Homo sapiens: one gene and its partners. The protein of the gene in region 3 purifies or fractionates together with the protein of the main gene of each other region. This does not show direct contact. Each region holds a gene or a part of one and is shown on either strand. Other genes may lie near its edges. The genes, in order: ISOC1, FAM81A, PRCP, NPEPPS, C1QTNF9, PLPBP and CARNMT1.

Evidence for each region.
Region 1: the proteins of PRCP (region 3) and ISOC1 fractionate together in Homo sapiens (co-fractionation; one large-scale study listed by BioGRID). This does not show direct contact.
Region 2: the proteins of PRCP (region 3) and FAM81A purify together in Homo sapiens (co-immunoprecipitation; one large-scale study listed by IntAct). This does not show direct contact.
Region 4: the proteins of PRCP (region 3) and NPEPPS fractionate together in Homo sapiens (co-fractionation; one large-scale study listed by BioGRID). This does not show direct contact.
Region 5: the proteins of PRCP (region 3) and C1QTNF9 purify together in Homo sapiens (co-immunoprecipitation; one large-scale study listed by IntAct). This does not show direct contact.
Region 6: the proteins of PRCP (region 3) and PLPBP fractionate together in Homo sapiens (co-fractionation; one large-scale study listed by BioGRID). This does not show direct contact.
Region 7: the proteins of PRCP (region 3) and CARNMT1 purify together in Homo sapiens (co-immunoprecipitation; one large-scale study listed by IntAct). This does not show direct contact.

Annotation. Positions count from the first base shown.
Region 1 is NC_000005.10:129,108,249-129,111,748, forward strand, and holds part of ISOC1 (isochorismatase domain-containing protein 1), read left to right. Parts: intron 1-3,500.
Region 2 is NC_000015.10:59,455,186-59,458,685, reverse strand, and holds part of FAM81A (protein FAM81A), read right to left. Parts: intron 137-3,500; 5' UTR 116-136; coding exon of another isoform or gene 69-115; 5' UTR 60-68; coding exon 40-59; intron 1-39.
Region 3 is NC_000011.10:82,822,436-82,824,933, reverse strand, and holds the end of PRCP (lysosomal Pro-X carboxypeptidase isoform 1 preproprotein), read left to right. Parts: coding exon 1-28; 3' UTR 29-1,998; downstream 1,999-2,498. UniProt on the Homo sapiens protein: Cleaves C-terminal amino acids linked to proline in peptides such as angiotensin II, III and des-Arg9-bradykinin. This cleavage occurs at acidic pH, but enzymatic activity is retained with some substrates at neutral pH.
Region 4 is NC_000017.11:47,590,108-47,593,607, forward strand, and holds part of NPEPPS (puromycin-sensitive aminopeptidase), read left to right. Parts: intron 1-609; coding exon 610-774; intron 775-1,796; exon of another isoform or gene 1,797-1,848; coding exon 1,849-1,953; intron 1,954-2,377; coding exon 2,378-2,438; intron 2,439-3,500. UniProt on the Homo sapiens protein: Aminopeptidase with broad substrate specificity for several peptides. Involved in proteolytic events essential for cell growth and viability. May act as regulator of neuropeptide activity.
Region 5 is NC_000013.11:24,316,080-24,319,579, forward strand, and holds part of C1QTNF9 (complement C1q and tumor necrosis factor-related protein 9A precursor), read left to right. Parts: coding exon 1-90; intron 91-2,738; coding exon 2,739-2,801; intron 2,802-3,500. UniProt on the Homo sapiens protein: Probable adipokine. Activates AMPK, AKT, and p44/42 MAPK signaling pathways.
Region 6 is NC_000008.11:37,769,145-37,772,644, reverse strand, and holds part of PLPBP (pyridoxal phosphate homeostasis protein), read right to left. Parts: intron 1-3,500. UniProt on the Homo sapiens protein: Pyridoxal 5'-phosphate (PLP)-binding protein, which may be involved in intracellular homeostatic regulation of pyridoxal 5'-phosphate (PLP), the active form of vitamin B6.
Region 7 is NC_000009.12:75,014,794-75,018,293, forward strand, and holds part of CARNMT1 (carnosine N-methyltransferase), read right to left. Parts: intron 2,656-3,500; coding exon 2,460-2,655; intron 1,639-2,459; coding exon 1,475-1,638; intron 1-1,474.

The DNA of each region.
Region 1 (3,500 bases), on a different chromosome or scaffold from region 3:
ATCAGAGGAAAGAAGGGATGAGTACAGGGCCACAGGGTGGTGGGAAGCAGGCAGGTAGCTGGCCACAGCAGGTGTTTTAGGGTCCTTATTGGCTCTCCCTTCTCTGTTATTGCTGAAGCAGAATCCTATACTGAGATTACAAATAGAAATTATTTATTTTGTTTAGCTATTTTCAAGTCCATTAGGCTATTAGATTATCTGGTAGTTAGGTACTAAGTATTGCTGCTTCTTCCAATCTCAACAAAGACCTTTAATCCATTTCTTTTTTTTTTTTTTGAGAGATGGAGTCTTGCTTTGTCGCCCAGGCTGGAAGTGCAGTGGCACAATCTTGGCTCATCTGCAACCTCCACTTCCTGGGTTCAAGCAGTTCTCCCTGTCTCAGCCTCCCGAGTAGCTGGGATTGTAGGTGCCTGCCACTGCACCCGGCTAATTTTTGTATTTTTAGTAGAGATGGGGTTTTGCCATGTTGGCCAGGCTGGTCTCGAACTCCTGACCTCAGGTGATTTACTTGCCTCGGCCTCCCAAGGTGCTGGGATTACAGGTGTGAACCACTGTGCCCGGTCAGACCTTTAATCTATTCTTATAGTCATGAGTTAATCAATTCCTACTTTTCAGGTTTTCCTGGTAACCTGAGTTTAAATACTTCATTGTCAGGTCCTCACCACCTCAGCCAGCAGCTCTTTCAGCCACTGTGGATAAACCTTTATTGTAATGCTGAGGTCCAGAACTTTGGAAATAAAAAATGAAAAACACAAAACAAACTTCCTTGCTTGTAAAAAAGGACTTTTTTCAAGGACTTTTCTCCTACATTCATATTTTCTTAGATATGTCTTTGTTATGGCAACTTAATGACAAAATTTTGATTGGCAATTCTGTCTTTGCACAAGACTCAAGATTAAAAACAATTCCCATCTGAACCATTCTTTTTAGAGGCAATCTGTAATCTCTCGGATTAGGAATCCACACAATGTGGGGATAATGTGGGTTTGAAGGCAGGTTCTGGTGTTTTGTAAATTTGTGACTTTGAGCAAGTTGTGTAATCTCTATGCCTCAGATTTCTCATTGGTGAAATGGAAATGATAATAGCAACAAGATCATAGGATTTTTGTGAGAATGGAATGAGATAATATATTGATAGCAGTTAGGACAGTGCATGACATAGTAAATACTCAGATGTTAGCTGCTGCTTTTTTTGTTGTTACTGATTGTTGTCTTCACGTGGTTAGTCACCAGAAATGTGTAAGTATATAACCTCTAAGACCCAGAAGGGACTAGTTCTTGGAAGTTCTGAGAAGGGAGGGAAAGAATCTGTTGTCTGGGGTGGATTTGGAAGGGCCTGGAGCACCAACATTGCCTGGGGTTAAAGTGTTGAGGTTGAAAGGGAAAACCGATCATAGATAAGTCAGGTGGTGATTGATAGGGAACACCTGCCATATTGCAGATTTTTTTCCTTTTAGTCTTGATTTGATACGGAGGCGATATACCTTGTTCCTAAATTTGAGGAAGGGGGCAATGTTAAGTGTTCTGGTTTGTTTCCATAAGTGTGAAAGTTAAAATACCATTGTGGTCCTCTCCCCTTCCTCTCTATTCCTGTAGAACATAACTACTGAAGATAATTCCCAAGACTAGCTATATTGCCTGTTAAGATTATTTTAAGATTCATAGTTTGCATTATTGAAACTTCACTGTACCAGGGTCTGTGGCATGTGCTTTATTCAAGAAATGTTTTCTGGGTATTTGTCATCTGAAAGACATTACTCCTTTCAATTAACAATTGTAGAGTGCATGAAGAATAAGAGAATAAAATCCTCTCTTGACCTTGATGTCCTTGTACTTCCGGGGAGTTTTAGTGTTGCTTGGAAATCTAATGGGTTTAGTCTTTTTCCCCCCTCTCTGAGGCTTTCATGACTTAGTGCACATGCATTTTTTAGGTTTGTGGGTCAGAGCAATCCTTCTTTTCCTTTGGCCTAGTTGGATTAGTTTTGCAAGTGTAAGGGGAGAACTTCAGAAGTCTAATGCACATGTACCTGTGTGCATTAAATGGCTGGAGTTTTAACTGCCCCTTTTTAAGCCAGGAGAGAAAGTGGACTTGGGACCAGCATTGTCAGGATGGTGGGCAGGGACTTGCTAGGTATGTCTGGAAAGCTCCTGCTGTTCTTTCTCTGCTCAGGCACGTTCTTTGGTTGGGAAAGGGCAGGCATTGTGGGAATGGCTAAGAGCCAGATTGAAAACCATTGCATTTGCTAAGCTACACCTTTCCCTAACACAGGTTCCTGGCTAGATGATTTTAAAACCCAGTCAGTGTTGGCCACATTTCAATCTTGAAGCAAAGTGATAGTGTATGGGTGTCACTTTCCTAAAATGTATTTCTGTGATGTACACTTCCCACTCTGCCCCTGCTATGGCCACCTGAGTCTCAGCATCACTGAGGCTTGTTAGGCTCAGGTCAGTAGAGCACTAGGGAGTGCTGGGCATTGTAGACAGGCTTCTTGTAGCGTCACCAGATTCCTTCCTTAGACCTGGGAACAGATTTATCTTTCCTGTCTCACTAAGGAACTGGGGAGATTATCGAGAACTAACCTTTATTGGCACATTGGAGTATACAGTGTAAAGCACTCTCACAGACATTGAAAGCCTGTGATTTAGTCCTTGATTCAGACTGAATCATTGCAAGTCCATTGATTCAACAGTGAGCAGTAAGGAAGGCAGGGCTGAGCAGGGCAGGCAGCTGGTGATGGGGAGAGCTGGACATGAATGACTTGACATTCAGTGCTGTTTTCACACAACTGGACTGCAGCTTATCATATTTATTATCTGCCTTTCTGTCTGAAGCAAGCACACGATCTTTTCATATTTTTGAATGGTTTTGATATGATTAATCAGCTGACTATAAAGCAAGGAGGAGGAAATTAGGGCTTCCAGAAGTCTTAAAAAAATACTCAGAGATAACTCACCCCTGGTGTGTGTCTGAGCTTATGGCCTTACTCCAGGCCCCCAACCCCCCCATAAATAGCTGCTGTTTTTGTTTTGTTTTATTTTGTTTTTTTTAAAAAATTGCTGCAAAGTTCTGGTTAGCTGCTCTGCACCCTTTTCTGTACTGGTCATTAAGGTCCAAGCTTGCTTTCTGACAAGTAGGTTATGGCTTATACTCCCTTATACTTCATTACGGATAAAAATAAAGAGTCTGCCAGTGGAAAGGTTCAGTCTGCTGATGTACAGCCATTGAAGGAAGACTGACTTACACTCTGCAAGGATATTTTGGCTATGCAAGGGCTTCCTGGGTTTTTGCCTCTGACTTACCTAGGAATTGTTTCCAACCACTTCCTCTTTCATGCTTTTTACATATATGCTTTTTGTGATAACAGTTTGTGTCTTTTTTTTCCCTGGGATTTCTGATAACACATAAATCCAGAGAATGAATCTGTGCTATAGAATTCTTCTATTTTCCTCCTTTCCTCTCTCTACCCTTTACCCCCGACTTTCTGTTCTTTGCTCTCTTC
Region 2 (3,500 bases), on a different chromosome or scaffold from region 3:
TAGCAGCCCCCATGGGATGAGTGGAAAGGAAAAGTATACCTTAGATGCATATTTTCCATATATTATACCTTTCCTTGGTGACACGAGAAGGAAATACAGTGCTCCGTTGGGCCATTTTCTTTTTAATAATTCACATCTGTTGAAAAAATAAGCACTAAATTATTTAACAGTTTATATCTAGAACTTAACCTCAAAAGCTTATTATTAAGTTGCTAAGTGGATCATAAATTATGTTGAAACACTGATAAGTTATATTATTAAATGTTTTGTATCTTATACATGAAATAAACAGCATATGTTTCCAAATAAGAAGAAAAGCAATCAAGCAAAATCAAAGCTCTTCTGAAATTAATATTGCTAAGCCTTGCAAGACAGACCAACAGGGACTGTACAATGGAGTTTCCTGAAGTTTCCTCACTCCAAATCTGCATCTCAAGCTTGAGAAACCACTTTTAACAGAAACTAGAGTGTTTAATAGGCTTATCCAATCTTATACTTCTCTGTAGAATTTTGCAGGAAACTACCTCAGTAAATTTGATCTCAGAAAACTTTTACTACTAATTCCATGGTAAATGAAGAGCACTTATTTCTAAATTAATCTCAAATAAAACAGCACATGATCAATGTGATCTGATTTGTGGGAAGATATCTATCCACCAAGGGAGTGAGAAAGATATTCCTCATTAGAACTTGAAAACTTTATAATAAGATACAATCATTCATATTTCATCTTGCATATAAGGAACATTTGGTCCCCACAACTCATTAGAAATGTGAAAAACACTAGAGGATGTTTAAAATACTTTATTATTTAGGTTCCTCAATACTGCTATCAATTGCCTTAAAATAATGAATGCCTACTAACTATGATCTGATTCCATAATTAATTCTCATTTAGATGCTGGATTCAGAAAGCATTTCTGATTGAAATCACTGTTTTGGCGTCATCTCTCTAGTGTTTTATTTTTGGAGTTTCAAAATGTGCACATTTCATTTTCTTAGACAAAGAACTTTAAACAAATTACATTTAAGGAAAAAAAAGTCATTCATGCCAAACAAGCTATGGTGCCCAAAGAGTTCTTCAGTGTCAAAGAGAAGCATTTCTGCCATATAGACTACAGTAGCCCTCCCTCATCTGTCAGGGGTACATTCCAAGACCCCCAGTGGATGCCTGAAACCGAAGCCTATATATACTATTCTTTTCTACACATACATACTCATGATTAAGTTTAATTCATAAATTAGGCACAGTGCTCTTGCACTTTGGGGCTATTATGAAGTAAAATAAGGGTTACTTGGTCACAAGCACTGCAATACCCCAACAGTCAATCTGATAACAGAGATGGCTATTAAGTGACTCACAGGGCCAGGTATACATGGTGTGGATATGCTGGACAAGAGGATGATTCCCGTTCTGGGCAGGAGGGAGCAGGATCGCACAAGATTTCATCACACTATTTCAGAACAACACACAATTTAAAACTTATGAATTGTTTATTTCTAGAATTTTTTATTTAATATTTTTGACCATGGTTGACCTTGGATAATGTGGAAAGTGAAACCATCGATAAGGGGGGACTACCGTAAATAAAATCAGGCCAGTGTGGGAAATGCTGTTATTTAGAATCATAGAATCTTTACAGTTTTAAAGTTGTAAGACATCTCAGTTGAGATATTAATCTACAGAATAGCCTAACTTAAGAAACATGTATTTGGCATCTATTAGGTAATTAAGTAACCTAACTAGGAAAAACTAAAATCCCTTCCCTCAGCAGAAGTCATCTAAACCAACCAGAAAACAATGGGTTGTGGCTCATGCCTGTAATCCCAGCACTTTGGGAGGCCAAAGTTGGAGGATTGCTTGAGCCCAGGAGTTCAAGCCCAGAATTTCGAGGCCAGCTGGGCAACATGGCGAAATCCCATCTCTACAAAAAATACAAAAATTAGCCAGGCGTATTGATGCACACCTGTAGTCCAAGCTACTCTGGAGGCTACTCAGGAGGATCACCTGAGCCCAGGGAGGCTGAGGCTACAGTGAGCCATGATAGCGCCACTGCACTCCAGCCTGGGCAATAGAGGAGACTCTGTCTCAAATACAAACAAACAAAAACAATGGGTTAAGTGGCTAACCCTGTGAAAAAAAGCACATGGGGAGGGAAAACAGGAGAGGGGTCGATTTTTCCTGGGTAGCAGCTAGGTCAGGAAGAACTGATGAGAATGAGTAGGCTTTCCCAAAATAGGGGATGGAGAGATTGTTCCACAGCTTCTCTTCAACACTCCAACCTCTACTTCCTTTCTTCTGAACATGCTCTGGCCTGCCTAACCTGTTCTTCCGCCCTCATATTTGGCCACTCCCTACCACAATCACCTGCTCCAGTCACCGGGAACCCCCGCCCCCGCCACCCCATCCACCACCGTCCTTGGATATGTCCTGCACACTCCTGCCATCACACCTCTGTGCGTGCGCTCTATGGGAAATGCCCTTCCCACCCCTGCCAGCCTAGAAAATTCATGCACTCTTTAAAGCCCCACTAGCCCCTCCAGTCTATAAAGTGGCTCTCTCTCTTGCATTTCTCCAGCTCTTTATCTGTTTGTATACTATTTATTGTGCTCTATTCTTTTTAGTTGTTTAATAGTCTAGCTCCCCTACTAAATGACACGCTCCTTACAGGCATGTTTCAAATCTTAATAAACACAGGGCTGACCTAGAAGTATCCATATATGTTTGTTAATGAATGAGTGAATGCCCAGCACTTCCAGATCAGAAACTGCAGCAATAAAGATATAAGACAATATACTTTAGTTAAAAAGTATAATTATTTACCAAGACTGAATCCCAAATATTAGACACTCAATAAGTATCTGAAAGAATGGGGACTTTGGCATCCCCTTCTCTGAAGGCCATTTCATCTACCTGAACAGAGCCACAAAAGTCAAGCCACACCACTGATTATCGGAGATGGCTTTTCAGAAGCAAACCCTCCTAAGCGCTATGCAGCTCTATGACAAGAAATTTCATAAGGCATGAGCTCACAAGACACATTATTCAGAATGGGTGCCCTTTATGAATGTGGTGAGGATCTGCATATCTGGCAGGTCGCTTGGTTTGTTAGCATCACGATTCTTTGCCAGAACGTGGAATCTATATTGCAGATGAATAAAGATTGATAATGAATAAGTCACAGGATTAAATAACATCTCAAGCATTGTTTCCAGATCTTCCCGTTGTTAATTCTGGCTTACCTGCCTGAGGTTATCATCTCCTGTACGTTTATAAATCTGATCACTGATACCACAGGTCTGTCTACAACCTTATCACACAGGTCTGGGTTTCATGCTGTTTTGATTGTGCAGTGATTCCACTATATTAAACAATATATTAAACAATCTCCACTTTATAAAGTTTTAAAATTGGGGGAAGTTGGGGGAAGGGACAGGTAGGTAAAGCAAGAAGAAAAGAATGGAAAGAAGTAAGAAAAAATAAACTCTGGGGCCAGGCA
Region 3 (2,498 bases):
CTATGACAGTGCGGGAAAGCAGCACTGAGAAACTTTTGATTGTTTTCAATTTCTTCTTTTATGTTCACACCACCACATTCCCATTCACTTTGATTTTCTACATGTAATTACCTTCTTTTGTTTATCATTAGATTTGATGGGGCCAAAGTTGAGATAGAATAGAGGGTGATGACGGTAAGAGCAAGTGTCCCATGAATGTGATTTCCTGGGTTCTCACTGTCTTTGCACCACGTCTAGGAAGAATCTTCTTGATAGCTCTCCCACACCATCAGTGGCCCTCATAACTGGAGTAGAGTTCCTGGTTGCTTTTCATAAGAGGGAGAGTTACTTTCTTTGTATCTCTGCAAGCAGAGATTTCTCTTTGGTTTTGAGGTTGAAGTGTCTTTGGCCCATTTGTAAGTCCCCATCCCTACCCTACACAAAGTAAAAGCAGAAGATAGATAAAAAATGATGTAATTGCAGCTGGTAGGATGTCTGGTGCCAATCCAGGAAGTGAGAGCCATTTCTTTTGTACCGGATTTAATGACTTTGAACTGTGCTGTAAATAAATAATACAGCTGGACCTTATACCTGTGTGTTGCTTCTGAAGCTCACTTCAACTCCGGCTGATGGAAATGCTGTGTGCACTGGGCTTAGCTGTTTTTGGAAAGTCCTTTAATTTTTTCTCTTCCACTTGGCAGCTTTTCTTAGTTCTGGGATGTTGGCCACTGTGGTACTGCCAGTAAGAAATCTGGCCTTTTTCTGCTCCATTTCTCTTTGTTTCTAAGGTCAGTTTTAATTTGTTTGAATTCTGCCAGTTTAGGAAAATGACTCTGTTTTGTCTTTTTAAATCTGAGCAAGCTTTATGCTGTAGTCACTAATTATATTTCAGTAAGAAGCCTTTAAAAATTGATGAATCAGCTATTCCAAAAGTAGAATATAGTAATATTCAGCTTTTAAATTTTTAAAATTTTATTTTCTGATAGTTGTTACTGCTGTCATTAAAACCAGAAGTGTTAGACACTAACAGGCAGGTGCACAAGAACTTTTCTGTATGACTTCCAAAAGACAAGCTGACTAATTCATGCAGGCAGCATATTTGACATTAATAAATGGCCAAGCCATTCCTATTTCCAAGGGGTTGGCTTCTTTCAAGCAGTTCTTACACTGAGACCTTTCTTCAGAGAGCTTTTCTAGGATAACAAATAGGGTTGGATCAAAACCTTTCAGGGACACAGAGAGACAGAGAGAGAGAGACTAACAGTTTCTACTCTGTTGAAAGATTTCTTCCTCCTTGTTTCTTTTCATTTTCTCTCAATAATTTTTTTTTCTTCACCCTGCCTTGGGAACATTTTCTGCTTTTAAAAAACTGTACCTTGAGCTTGATCATTTTTATGGCATTTTTTTTTTTTAAGGGCATATATAGAGTTCATTCTTGGGATGGAAAGCTGAAATATTTCCTTTACTTTCCCTGGCATCTGGGAGATACAGGAAAATCTTTGTCTTATTTTGGGAGCCTTCAGTTCTCATTGTAATGAGTTGTCTATCAAAGCATTTGGTAACTATTTTGTTTCAGCATCACAGAACAATCGATTTGGGTGGGAATTTAAGGGCCAAAACAATACTAGTTTTTATTCTTTGTCAACTAAGAAATTAAATAATGCAGGGTTTATGGGCTCAATAGAGGATATTCTTACAATTTATTTTACGATTTTAGGGTTTTTCCCTTGTGTAGAATCTTTAAAATACTTTGCCATTTTATTTGATGTTGATTATTTGGATGAGTTACATTATTCTGAAGAAACAAACTGCAAAAAATAGAATTTTTTGGCAAGCATAATTGTATCCTATTACTGTATGCATTTTAGGAATATAGATAGCAGCCTTAATTGAAGTGAGTATAATTATAATATGCTAAGGTTTAATTTTAACATGAAAAAGAATTGGAGTGTCAGATAAGCCTTATTATTTAAAGCATCCCTCTAATAAAACTGCACTTTTTACTGACAGGGAAAGAGAGACATGGAGACTTGAGTGCTTTCTATTTTTATTTTTTTCAGCTCCCAAGAGCTTAGAAAGAATTGGGTGCTTTTTATTTTCTGTTTTTGTTACTTTAACTGCCTGGAGTCAATGGGTAGAACTAAAGTAACTTAGGAGAACCTTCATAAGGAATCTGTAGCGCCAAGAGGTTATCCAGAGGAGCCAGTGTCTAAGCCAGCATAGTAGAGGGTGAAGGCCCCTGAGATATCCAGTTCAACTGCATCATTTTGTAAGGGATAGAATTGTAGCTTAGAGAGAAGGAACTTATCTACGGCCTCACAGCTCCTTTTTGGCAAAACTGGGGCAGAACTGGGGCTCCTTTTTGGCAAATTTTGTTTGCTTCATTTTACTGGTACAGTTTTATTTTTGTTTGGATTCAAGCAACAAAAGCCCACAAAACCAGCTTAAGGAAAAGAAATGTTTTGAAACTGCCAGATCAGCTCCAGGACTTGGGTTACCAGGAATCATGGGGAACTAGA
Region 4 (3,500 bases), on a different chromosome or scaffold from region 3:
ATTGCTTGAGCCCAGGAGTTCAAGGCTGCAGTAAGCTACGATGGTGCCCCTGCCACTCCAGCCTGGGCAACAGAATGAGACCCTGTCTGGGTTTGCGGGAGAAGTTATTTACAATGTTTTGAAAATATCCTTTAGCCCAGGCATGGTGGCTCACACCTGTAATCTTAGCACTTTGGGAGGCCGAGGCAGGTGGATCACTTGAGTTCAGAAGTTCCAGACCAGCCTGGCCAACATGGCAAAACCCCCTCTCTACTAAAAATACAAAAATTAGGCAGGCATAGTGATACATGTCTGTAATCCCAGCTACTGGTGAACACTCCAGCCTGGTGACAAAACAAGACTTTGTCTCAAAAAAAAAAAAAAGAAAAGAAAGGAAAAGAAAATGACCCTCAGATATAATTCTCATATCACCAGTTGGCCTTTCTTGACATCTCTTTTAGTCTTCTCTCTTTTTCAGAAATGTGAGTTCTTTGCCAAATGTTTTGAACTGAATTTTAGGTCATTAAATTGTGAGTTTGGGAATATAGTGGAAGGGACATGTGAGTGTTTTAGATTAGTAGAATGACAATCATTTCATTTTCTTTAAGTATTTTCATCTTTTGTTTTTAGGAATGGTGGACTCATCTTTGGTTAAATGAAGGTTTTGCATCCTGGATTGAATATCTGTGTGTAGACCACTGCTTCCCAGAGTATGATATTTGGACTCAGTTTGTTTCTGCTGATTACACCCGTGCCCAGGAGCTTGACGCCTTAGATAACAGCCATCCTATTGAAGTGAGCCATACTTTCTAACCATTAGCCTATGACTGCTCTCATTTACAATGAAATACGTAATTTGTTACATAGATACTTTGGACTTTGAAAATAAGAGAAAATAGCATGGGTGATTTTACTGGTTCATATTTCTAGTCTTGAAAAGCTAGTAAGTCTAAGTTCTAATTAACATTTCTTTTTAAGGTAGGCAGTAAAAAAAAATTGGTCTGGCCAGGCGCAGTGGCTTATGCCTGTAATCCTAGCATTTTGGGAGGCTGAGGCAGGTGGATCACCTGAGGTCGGGAGTTTGAGACCAGCCTGACCAATATGGAGAAACCCCGTCTTTACTAAAAATACAAAATTAGCTGGGCACGGTGGCGCATGCCTGTAATCCCAGCTACTCGGGAGGCTGAGGCAGGAGAATCACTTGAACCTGGGAGGCAGAGGTTGCGGTGAGCCGAGATCGTGCCATTGCACTCCAGCCTGGGCAACAAGAGCAAAAAACTCTGCCAAAAAAAAAGAAAAAGAATAGTATGGGAGAAGTCATACCTATTGGGTAACACTATGGTTCCATTGTTTATGTCAAGGAAAATTCTGGACATATTTTATTGTCAGGGTCTGTTTTGTGAATACTTTAATTCTCTTGACTTAGCCTATCCCTACTTCAGTTTATATATATAAATTTTGTATCTAAAGAACTAGAGTTATAATGCTACTTCAACATATTTAATTAGGCTCCCATATAATTGTAATTCATTACAATTAGTGCAAGAAATCTAATGTTCTTCACCTCCATATCTTCCTCATCACTCCTCTGCAACTACCCCAAAAATAAACAGAACCATAGTGGCTTCTTTCCCAGCAGAACAAAGCCAGGACTGGAACCCAGGCTCTAAGGGATGACAGGAATCATGTTCTATTCAACTTTATTATTATTAGTTACTACATTTTTTTGAGGACCATCGTTATACATTATGAGTGAGTTAAAGGCAGAAAAATGTAAGTTAGAAGGGTTTTCCTAGAAAGCGTTTTATGTAATTCAGTATTACAGGCTATCTGCTTCCTGTCATAACCCTGAATCACACTGTCTGCCAGGTCAGTGTGGGCCATCCATCTGAGGTTGATGAGATATTTGATGCTATATCATATAGCAAAGGTGCATCTGTCATCCGAATGCTGCATGACTACATTGGGGATAAGGTAAAAAAAAACTTTAAATATTTCATTCTTTTATGGTGAAATCATAAGAGTTTTGCATGAAAAAAAGTCTCACTTTATTTGGATTAAGTTCCCAAATAGTTTCTGGCTTGTCATTTTTTTTTAATGACCAAAAAGAATGAGAATTCAATTATTTGAAGTTGACTACTCTGGTCTCTTAGATGAGTGATGTGCAGGTGTGTTTGGGAGTGGAAATGGGAGGCTGTTACAAAACTTAAGAGCAAGAATAGAAGGCATAGAGTACGCATTATTAAATAAAAGGCAGTAGGCATCAGAAGGATATATGTGTTTCAGTGTATCTGATACTTGAGTATTTGAGTAAATTTGTTTTTGATTACTGATATACAAATATACTATAAATTCTGAGATCTGACTTCCCTGGATTTTAAAAATTGTGTTTTCTCAGGACTTTAAGAAAGGAATGAACATGTATTTAACCAAGTTCCAACAAAAGAATGCTGCCACAGGTAATCTCTAATAGCTTGAGATAGAAATGGAGAGAAAGTATTGTCACTCTATCCAGGCTGGGACATTTTATTTTTGTTCTGAATACTTAAGGTCAGGATCCATGTAATAAATAAATTAGCCTTATTTGAAGCTGTGTTCAGGTTGAATATCTCTAATCTCAAAATCTGAAATTTGAAATGCTCCAGAATCTGAAACTTTTTCTTTCCTTTCTTTCTTTTTTTTAATTAAAGTTCTAGGGTGCATGTGCACAATGTGCAGGTTTGTTACGTCAGTATACATGTGCGGGCCATGTTGGTTTGCTGCACCCATTAACTCGTCATTTACATTAGGTATTTCTCCTAATGCTATCCCTCCCCCAGCCCCCTACCCCATGACAGGCCCTGGTGTGTGATGTTCCCCGCCCTGTGTTCAAGTGTTCTCATTGTTCAATTCCCACCCAAAATCTGAAACTTTTTGAGTGCCAACATGATGCTCAAAGGAAATGCTCATTGGAACATTTTAGATTTTGGATATTCCAATTATAGATGCTCAGCTAGTAAGTATAATGCAAATATTCCAAAATCCAAAAGAAATATGAAATTCAAAACATTTCTGGTCCCAAGCATTTTGGATAAGGGATACTCAACCTGCAGTAAGTCATAGGGTCAACATGAATCAGGACTCGTTATCCCTTTGGTCATCCTCCAGCATTCTGCTTTCCATAACTGAGTATTTTGCCAACTTAAAGAGTCTGGGCCGGGTGTGGTGGCTCACGCCTGTAATCCTAGCACTTTGGGAGGCCAGGATGTGCGGACTGATTGAGCCCAGTTCAAGACCAGCTTGCAACATAGCGAGACCCCACCTCTACAAAAAATACAAAAATATTAGCCGGGTGTGGTGGTATGTGCCTGTAGTCCCAGCTACTCAGGAGGCTGAAGTGGGAAGGGTCACTTGAGCCCAGGAGTTTGAGGTTACAGTGAGCAATCATGGCACCACTGCACTCCAGCCTGGGCAACAGAACAAGATCCTGTCTGAAAAAAATAAAAAATAAAGGGAATACAGTCATGTGTTGCTTAACAACA
Region 5 (3,500 bases), on a different chromosome or scaffold from region 3:
GGCACCCTGGAATCCCTGGGAACCCCGGTCACAATGGTCTGCCTGGAAGAGATGGACGAGACGGAGCGAAGGGTGACAAAGGCGATGCAGGTACTCACCTGACGGCTTCGGCTGCCTTTCAACTTCTCTCTTCATTCCTTTCATCTCATTCACTCATCATCTGTGTGATTTTCCACCTACCCACTCACACCCCATCCATCCATACATACATCAACCCAGCAACACTCACTGGAGCCTGACCCCATTCATCCATCCACCCATCTGCCCAGCAACACTCACGGGGTCTGCTCCATGCCAGACTCTGTGCCAGGTGCTGGTGGAGAGCACAGGGCAAGATCGCCATGACCCCTGCCCTCCTGGGTTCTCTCATCTCTGACACCGCAGAACATTTTCAGTAGTATACGATGTCATGGATCCTCCCATCTCAGGTGACAGGTATGATGGATTTTTGGCAACAAAAGGCTAATAGAGAGATCTGATCACGAATTATTTGGCAGCAAGCACCCAGCTGCAGTGCAGGTGAGAGCTAATACCGCATCATGCCATGAAGCAGGAGATGCGGAGTGACAGATGACACAAAAGGAGACGAGAATCTGAAACCATACAGCTGCTGCTTATGCATCTATATGACCTAGGTTGGGACCCTGTCCCAGGGTCTGGGGATCTGGGGGACAGGATTCAGCCTCTGGGAGGGAGATTTGCCAAAGCTGAGAAGTCCGAGTGGTTTCCATAACAACAACCAATAGACTTGGTTTCCGAATGGGGTACCATTCTTGAGGCCTGGTCTTGACCATAGGGTCACATATCTAAGGCATATGCAGAATGATCCATCTGGGTTAAGGGCACAGTTCAGTGGCATTACAAAAAAATATATCAAAACTTCTATGGACCTTTTTAAAGATAAGTTTGTGTTTCTAACACATCTCAGCTTATGGCATTTGGTGGCCTGATGATGTTTTGAGTGGGCTGGATGAAGCCAAGGGTCACCAGGAAGCAACATTCTTTCTAACCACCATCCTGCACATCTGCTCTGTGAGGTGTCTTCTCCTGGCTCACATCTCCAGCTCATTGACACTGTTCCAGTCCCCAGGTAGCAAACAGCCCAGTCCAAATGAATAGCAAAACCTTACCATTAATGAAATCAGGTCTTCTGCCCTCACACTGGGACCACAGTAGTGTGTGTGTGTGTGTGTGTGTGTGTGTGTATTGTATTTCTGAATATATAAGATTTTCATTTTTTGTTATAAAATTTTACACACAAAAGGAGATAAATAGGTGATAGATAAAAAATAGAGGACAAAGACAAACACTCCTATATTCAATACCAAATTTCTCTACCTCTTCCCTGTTGAATTTCTCTCCTCTTTTCTCACCAGTGTCCATTCTTTCAAGTTTTATATACTTCTTAGAAGCAAATTATGTATCTATTTTTCTACGTAGTTCATAGGTATTATATATAATATATATTACTTCTTAGAAGGATATTCATTCACATTGCTCACACTAAAAATTTACTTCATTTTTATCTTATCTTAAAGTGTATTTTTGTATATGTTTTATACCAAACATATTTTCCATATACTACCTGTGCATAATGTAGAAACATATAAATATCTACTGATTGGGGTCTGTGTTCATGCTTTGTGAGTTGTGGTTGCGTGATCATGAAAGCTCAGAGGCCACCGCTCTAGAGAATGGGAGAAACGAGAGCCAAGCAGGGAAACAAAAAGAGGGAAGGAGAGGAAGACACAGGGGAGCAGCCAGTGGAGGGGAGGGGAGGGGAGGGGAGCGCAGGGAGGGGCAAATGTAGGGATAAGCCCCCTCCATTCAGAGGTCCCACGCTGACCAAGGCCCCACTCAGGAGCGCTGGTGTCCCAGGAGAACAGACATCGTGACAGAAATAAGTCTGCCTGTGTCAGTCCTGTCTCAGGACCTGCAAGCCGGCCCAGCCTGCCCCTGTCGCCCCACAGCCACGTCAGTGGGTCTGAAGTATGGGAGTCTCTGCTGCTTTGTGAGAAGCCAGAGTCTGGGGTGAGCTGTGGCCCAATGAGCACTCTACTGCCATAGCCAGAGCCACCTTCAACCTGCTGACGGATAGCACGCCGACCTGGAGCTCAGGGGGGCCTGTTCTGAGCACAAGGACTTGAGTGTAGTCAGCAGAGCCCCACTCACCTGATGTTCTCTGCCAGCTTGATTGGTGGCATTTCCCCCAGTGTAAGGCACTAGAGGGATCCTTCCAGAACTCTCTCTTCTATCTTGGGATAGTGTCACGTAACCATAGTCATCTGTGTTTTCATAGGAGCCTAGTAAATCTTCCGTTCCACTCTCCTCAAGAGTAATGGAAGAGAAACAGAGTGAGGAAACCTCCTGGCACCTCCAACATTCAGACCACGTCCCAAGTCCTTGTCGCAGGAGAGGAACACAATCGTGACAGTCAGTCCCCATTGCACACACTCCCTCTTCGTCCTGTCTTGCTGTGCGCTCTAGGCACGTCCTAGAGATGGGCGCTTGGGAAGTCACTCAGTTCATTTCTTAGGTCACTTATCCCACGCAGCTCAGCACCCCAGATGCCCGCTCATGCCTGCCTCTCTCCACCTGCGCTTGTGTGGAGGACAGAGTGCCCGTCAGGGCGGGGGTCACCCCCAGACTCTCCAACACACATGGCTGATGGAGACCAATGGCCAGAAAAATCAGAAATGGAATTTCAACTCATGCCTGTTTTCTGCTTTTCCACCTAGGAGAACCAGGACGTCCTGGCAGCCCGGGGAAGGATGGGACGAGTGGAGAGAAGGGAGAACGAGGTTAGTAGTTCCTATTTATGGTGCTCTAATTCTGAGCTGTCGACTATTTAACAATATTACCATGGACAAGTCCTCCATGCTGATTATAATCTTACAATAAAGGCAACACAGTTCTTACTCTCCAGACGGGGGGATTCTGCAGGGATTGGCAGGCTTTGCAGAGGGCTGGGTAGTAAATATTCTCAACTCCGCAGGCCATACAGATCTGTCACCACTACTCAACTTCCCCTTGTAGTGAAAAGAAGCTGTAGATGCTCCATAAATAAGCATGGCTCTGTTCCAGTGACACCATATGTGTGAAGACTGAAATGGGAATTTCCCATGGTTTCCATGTATTGTGGAATATTATTTGTGACCATTTAAACATGCAAACCATGGCCGAGCACCATGGCCCACACCTGTAATCCCAACACTTTGGGAGGCCCAGGTAAGAGAATCGCTTGAACCTAGGAGTTCCAGACCACCCTGGGCAACATAGTAAGACTTTGTCTATACAAATAAAAAAAAAATTAGCTGGGCATTGTGGCACGTGCCTGTAGTCCCAGCTACCCAGGAGGCTGAGGTGGGAGGATCGCTTGAGCCTGGGAGGTTGGGGCTGCCATGAGCCATGATCTCGTCACTGCACTCCAGCCTGGGTAACAGAGTGGGTGACCCTGTCTCAAAGCAACAAAAAAACAAGCAGACAAACAAAACCCAGAA
Region 6 (3,500 bases), on a different chromosome or scaffold from region 3:
CACAGTTAAATCTCAGTTCCTCTGAGAAGACAAATGTGACAGTTTTACTAGATACAAATTCAAATGTCAGACCATCCCTGGCTAATCAGCAAAGGTAAATAAGGGAAAAGCTGACATACATGATCAGGCAGCATATACATCCATAAGCTTCAAGAAGCTGGTAACGGACAGATTCCTAGTAAAAGGCTTGATCTATGTCTCAGTTCAAACTGAGAGAAACAGGTCAGGATGACAATGAAGAAAGGATGACCAGTGGAAGCCAAGATGCTTCCCTAGCATATCACCACAATTCTTCAACTTTCTGGGATGAGGGTATTCTTATCCAACAAGGACATCACCATGACCCTAACACTGGCCAGGTGTGGTGGCTCACACGTGTAATACCAGGTGGGTGGATCACCTGAGGTCAGGAGTTTGACACCAGCCTGGCCAACATGGTGAAACCCCATCTCTACTAAAAAACTGCAGCAATCCACAGGACAGATTATCACAGTTTACATAACTATTCCTCGTTAATGGATATTAGATTGTTTCTTATTTTTTATTACAAAAACAAAGCTTGGATATAGAACTTGGTGCTATGTACAAGTATTTCAGATGGGCAGTTTGCAAATATTTTCTCCCATTCTGAGTTGTCTCTTCACTTTGTTGTTTCCTTTGCTCTGCAAGAGCTTGTTTTCTTTTGGAGACAGAGTCTCGCTCTGTCGCCCAGGCTAGAGTGCAGTGGCACAATCTTGGCTCACTGCAACCTCTGCCTCCTGGGTTCAAGCTATTCTTCTGCCTCAGCCTCCCAAGTAGCTGAGATTACAGGCACCCACCACTACACCTCACTAATTTTTGTATTGTTGGTAGAGATGGGGTTTTGCCATGTTGGCCAGGCTGTTCTTGAACTCCTTACCTCGTGATCTGCTGGCCTTGGCCTCCCAAAGTGCTGGGATTACAGGCGTGAGCCACTGTGCCCAGCCTGCAAGAGCTTTTTAACTTGATGTGATCCCATTTGTCCATTTTTGCTTTGGTTGCCTGTGCTTTTGGAGTATTTACTCAAGCAATCTTTGTCAAGGTCAGGTGCAGTGGCTCACACCTGTAATCCCCACACTTTGGGAGGCTGAGGAGGGCAGATCACTTGAGGCCAGGAGTTCAAGACCAGCCTGTCCAACACAGTGAAACCCTGTCTCTACCAAAAAATAAAAAAATTAGCCAGAGATGGCTAGGCATTGTGGCTCACGCCTGTAATCCCAGCACTTGGGGAGGCCGAGGTGGTCGAATCACTTGAGGCCAGGAGTTTGAGATCCATTTGGCCAACATGGTGAAACCCTGTCTCTATTAAAAATACAAAAAAAATTAGCCAGGCCTGGTGGCACATGCCTGTAATCCCAGCTACTCGGGAGGCTGAGGTAGGAGAATTCCTTCAATCTGGGAGGCAGAGGTTGCAGTGAGCCGGGATCACGCCACTGCACTCCAGCCTGGGTGACAGAGCAAGACTAGAAAGACTAAAAAAGAAAGAAATATACATATATGTATTTGGCTTCAAGTGATCCTCCCACCTTGGCCTCCCAAAGTGTTGGGATTACTGGTGTGAGTCACTGCATCTGGCCTCAAGAAGCCTTTATGGAAATGAATTGAGCTGTGAGGTTGAATGAGTATAACGGATCATCCAGAAGGGAAAATGGCACTAAAACAACAGTTCTGTTAGGTTTTCCTGCCCCTTCTATGCCTGCTGGCTCCTTCCCCGCTCCCTCCTCCCATCACCTTTACATATTTCTAACATGGCTAGGTGCAGTGGCTCACACCTGCGATCCCAGCACCTTGGGAGGCTGAGGTGGGCGGATCACCTGAGGTCAGGAATTGGAGACCAGCCTGGCCAACATGGTGAAACCCCGTCTTTACCAAAAATACAAAAATTAGCCAGCATGGTGGGGCGTGCCTGTAATCCCAGCTACTTGGGAGGCTGAGGCAGGAGAATCGCTTGAACCCAGGAGATGGAGGTTGCAGTGAGCCGAGATCATGCCACTGCATTCCAGTCTGGGTGCAGAGTGAGACCCTGTCTCAAAACAAACAAACAAACAAACAAAATTTGTCCAGACTAATGTCTTGGAGAGTTTCCCCAATGTTTTCTTTTAGTAGTTTCAGGTCTTGGATTTAGATTTAAGTCTTTAATCTATTTTGATTTGATTTTTGTACATGGTGAGAGATAGGAGTCTAGTTTTATTCTTCTGCATATGGATATCTAGTTTTCCCAGCAGCACTTATTGAAGAGATTGTCCTTTTCCCAATGTATGTTCTTGGCACCTCTGTTAAAAATAAATTCTCTGTAGATGTACAAATTTATTTCTGAGTTCTCTATTCTGTTCCATTGGTCTATGTGTCTGTTTTTATGCTAGTTTTGGTTACTATAGCTCTACAGTATAATTTGAAGTCAGGTAATGTGATTCCTCCAGCTTTGTTTTTTGCTCAGGATGGCTTTGGCTATTATGGGTCTTTTGTGGTTCCATATAAATTTCAGGACTGTGTTTTTCTATTTCTGTGAAGAATGTCACTAGTATTCTGATAGGGACTGCACTGGATCTGTAGATTGCTTTGGGCAATAAGGACATTTTGACAATACTGATTTTTCCAATTCATGAGCATGGAATATCTTTCCATTTTTTCATGTCCTCTTCAAATTCTTGCATCAGTGTTTTACAGTTTTCATTGCAGAAATCTTTCACTTCTTTGGTGAAGTTTATTCTTAGGTATTTCATTTGTAGCTATTGTAAATGGGATTACTTTCCTGATTTCTTTTCCAGATCATTCACTGTTGGCATATAGAAATGCTACTGATTTTTGTATATTTATTTTGTATCCTGCAATGTTACTGAAGTTGTTTTTCAGTTATAATAGTTTTTTGGTGGAATCTTTATGTTTTTCCAAGACTCTACGGTTTTAGAATCTCCTGGTAAGACGAAGGAGTACTCATTTACTCACTCCCTCAAAACACTGGATCTTAGCAGTCTTTTTGATTTTTTACAAATCTGATTAGTGATTTTGTATTTCTCTGAGGATGAATATTTTTCATTTGATTACTGGCCTTTTGTATTTTTACCCCTTATAAATTGCCCCAGTTTTTGCCTATTTTTTTTCCCTATAAACAAAAAGATTTGTAGCTCTTTATGTATTCTGGATATGAATCTCTTCCCTCTTCAAAAATATTATTTTTCTTCCACTCTGTGCCTCCCTTTTGCTTTGACATGCAGAAAGCTTTAATTTTTGTGTGATCAAATCTGCTAGTTGTTCTTTTAAAATTTATTATTATTAATATTATTATTATTATTAGATAGGGTCTCCTCTGTCATCCAGGCTGGAGTGCAGTGGCACAATCACAGCTCACTGCAGGCTTAACCTTTTGGACTCAGGTGATCGTCCTACCTCAGCCTCCCAGGTAGCTGGGACCACAGACACACACCACTACGCCCAGCTAATTTTTTGTATTTTTAGTGGAGACAGGGTTTTGCCATGTTACC
Region 7 (3,500 bases), on a different chromosome or scaffold from region 3:
CAGCGCCACTGCACCCCAGCCTGGGCAACAGAGTGAAAAATAAAAATAATAAATAAATAAATAATAATCAATAAAATAAAATGTCCTAACAAAAAATAAAGAGAGAGAAGAGACACATATGTATTGAAATTTCTGAAAGCAAATACTCAAACGTAAAGTTGTCAATCAATACGGAGGCAAAGGAGAGGAGGAAAAGGAGCCTCTCTAAAAGATCTTTAAATAAGACTGAATTCCATCCAATAGCTTTCGTTAAATATATACCCCTAAATCAGGGGTTCCTAACCTGGGACAGAGGTTAGGTGGATTAAATTCTATCCATCAAGAGGTCTGTGGATAGAATTCACTGAGTCTCTGAAGGGAATGGGAAAAAATTACATTTTAATTTCAGAAACTGATTTTTTCCCCTCAATTACGGATGCAGGCAACAAACAATAGTTTTAGCAATACCTATGACTTTATCACGAAGAGAAATCACACATATTTTCACTTCACATTAGCTGAAGTTCTCAAAACAGTGTATATCCCATTCAGCATTTTCATAATACATTTCATAATTATACTTGCAGCTAAATTGTATTTAAAGTGATATATGATTTAAAAAAACATGCATCACAAATTTACTTTTTAAATATTTTGATAACTGTATTTCAAAATCAGTTTTCTTTGTAATCATATGCACTTAAATTTATTCACTTAAAATTGTTATTCTGGGCCAGGTGAGGTAGCTCACACCTGTAATCCCAGCACTTTGGGAGGAAGACACAGGCGGATCACTTGAGGTCAGGAGTTCGAGACCAGCCTGGCCAACATGGTGAGCCCATGTCTCTACCAAAAACACAAAAATTAGCCAGGCGTGGTGGTGTAAGCCTGCAGTCCCAGCTACTTCGGAGTCTGAGGCATGAGAATCACTTGAACCCAGGAGGCAGAGGTCGCAGTGAACCAAGACCACACCACTGCACTCCAGCCTGGTCAAGAGAGTGAGACTGTCTCAAAAAAATAAATAAATAAATAAATAAATAAATAAAATAAAAAAAAAATTATTCTGAAAAGCAGACCATGGGCTTCAGACTGAACAATGGTTCCAAGGCATAAAAAAGTTAAGAATCTCTGCTTGCTCAGAGGTACAGATCCCTCACTTGTTTACAACTATGTCATAATGAGGGGAATTAAAAGTTTAGTTTTTTTGCTTTGCCATAAAGCAAATTATAAAAAGATACACATCATTGATAATTTTCGACCTAACCTTATTATTTAATTTCTAAGTAATTTCCCCTAAGCACCAGCATAAAAATTATTCAAAATAACAACTGTAATCTCACACAGAGCATCCAATAACAAATGTTAACACTTACACATGTAAAACATACAGGCACACAGCAACTATAACAATGAAGCGAGACTGTGAAACATTTTATCAAGAAACTCAAGTGTTCATACACTTTAAAAACTTGGTTAAAAATGAGGTACTATTTACCATCTCTCTTTTGGAAAATTTTTTAAAATTTCTTTAATGATTGGCTGGTAACAGGCATCCCTTTCTGCTTTCCCAGTTTCACTCCAGTCTCTCACAAACTGTTTCAGCGTGGATTTTAACTTATCCATGTCAAATGTAGATGCTGGCATAATCTTTCCATTCCCCTGTTTAAAAAACAGACATCAATTAGCTTCTGAGAGAGTAATCCACTTATATTATGGTTAAATAGACATGCTACTAAGGGGCTATATAGGTGGTTTAGTGGATAAATCACTAGCCTCTCACCTCAACTGGGGTTCAAGTGCAGCTTGAGATCCTAAATGAAAAGAGTTTGGTGGTCTCACTGCTACCCTCAAAAGATTAAGGTCCATTAATCATAAAACCACCATATAATTAAGCAGTCTTTACTCAGGAGAGGACCAAACTGAGCTGCTATGGAGACCGAACATCCTCTCTAAGAGAGGGAAGAAAGTCCCTCCAGGTCATTGATGGGGCAGCATGGAGAGGCTCACACTGGAGTGGCCCAACTGTATCCATCCTGTGGATACAAAAAGAGGACTTCAGTTTCTATGTACTGCCAGTCCCTTGAGATTTATAAGTGAAAACAATTTCTTACAATAAAAGATGAACAGCAATAGATACAAGACACTGAAAAAATATGAGTTAAGCAAGGGAAATTAATTTCTAGCTAGTAAAGTTGCTTTTAAAAATTTAAGTCACTAACCCTGTATTCCAAAACAGAACATTATGTCAAAATGCATCAAAATCTCAACAGTTATATTAGTACTTAAAAAAGGAAAACAAGTGAACAGATCCAGTCTCTGGCTATTAAGCCTAATCAAATGACTGAACATTTAAGTTAAAACTTTCTGAGTAGAGCAAATAGCCTGTGCCAGATTATAAAAATGAAATCCAGAAAATAAAAGACCTCAAAATACAGAGGTTGACCCTAAAATAAACAGAAATAGAACAAACTTTCACATACATCTTCTCCATATTCTTTATTTTCAAACATATGTATGCAATCATTCACAATGGTCAGTAGTATTTCTTGATTATGATCAATGCATTTCCGGATCTTGTCCAAGTGAAGAAGAAACTGAGGAAGTAGTTTCTGTTGGTTAGCTGGAAGTGATCGAAACTGTCTTTCTGTTCGGTTCACCCGCTCATGCATACTGGTGCTAAAACATAAAAGGTGTTTTTTAAATTCACAAAAGAATTCTCACCAGAGGCCAATCTTACTTTAAGGTTGTCTTTCTGTACAATTATTTCCTTATTATGCTGGATACTGTCCTATCATTTACAATCTCTTGGCTTTAAAAAGGCATTAACTTATAAAGTTGTAAATGTTTTTACTTTATTACAAGTCCTTCTCTAAGCAACCAAAATACAAATGGTTTATCACTAGTAAAAGTAAACATATGCACCAATTAGAAGAGGAAAAAGAAGATTAATGTACAATTAATTTATTTTTGTGTTTTAAACTTAAAATTTTCAGCAAAACCAGCTTTAGATTTTTCCATCTTTAAGTAGCAAAATAAATACTGCTATGAAATTATAATACACACAAAATATGTCCTGAAATTAACTAAAAGCTAACCAGGTTGATTTTTTTTAAATATCATAGAAGATCTTATATACTACAAATTACTAAGCAAATAAAAAATTAAAATTCTATAGTGTTTTACTTAACAATACCCACAATTTGCATTCCAAAAACGAACCCAAAGGTCACTTTGGGGACTACTTATTCATAAAACCAGAAAATAGAACATAATTTTTACTTATATTTACTTATTATTATTATTTTTGAGAGGGATTTTCGCTCTTGTCGCCCAGGCTGGAATGCAGTGGCACAGTCTCGGCTCACTGCAACCTCTGTCTCCCAGGTTCAAGCCATCCTCCCACCTCAGCCTCCCAAGTAACTGGGACTACAGTCATGTGCCACCACACTTGGCTAATATTTTTGTATTTTTTTGTAGAGATGGGTTTCATCATGTTGCCCAGGCTGGTCTCAAACTCCGGG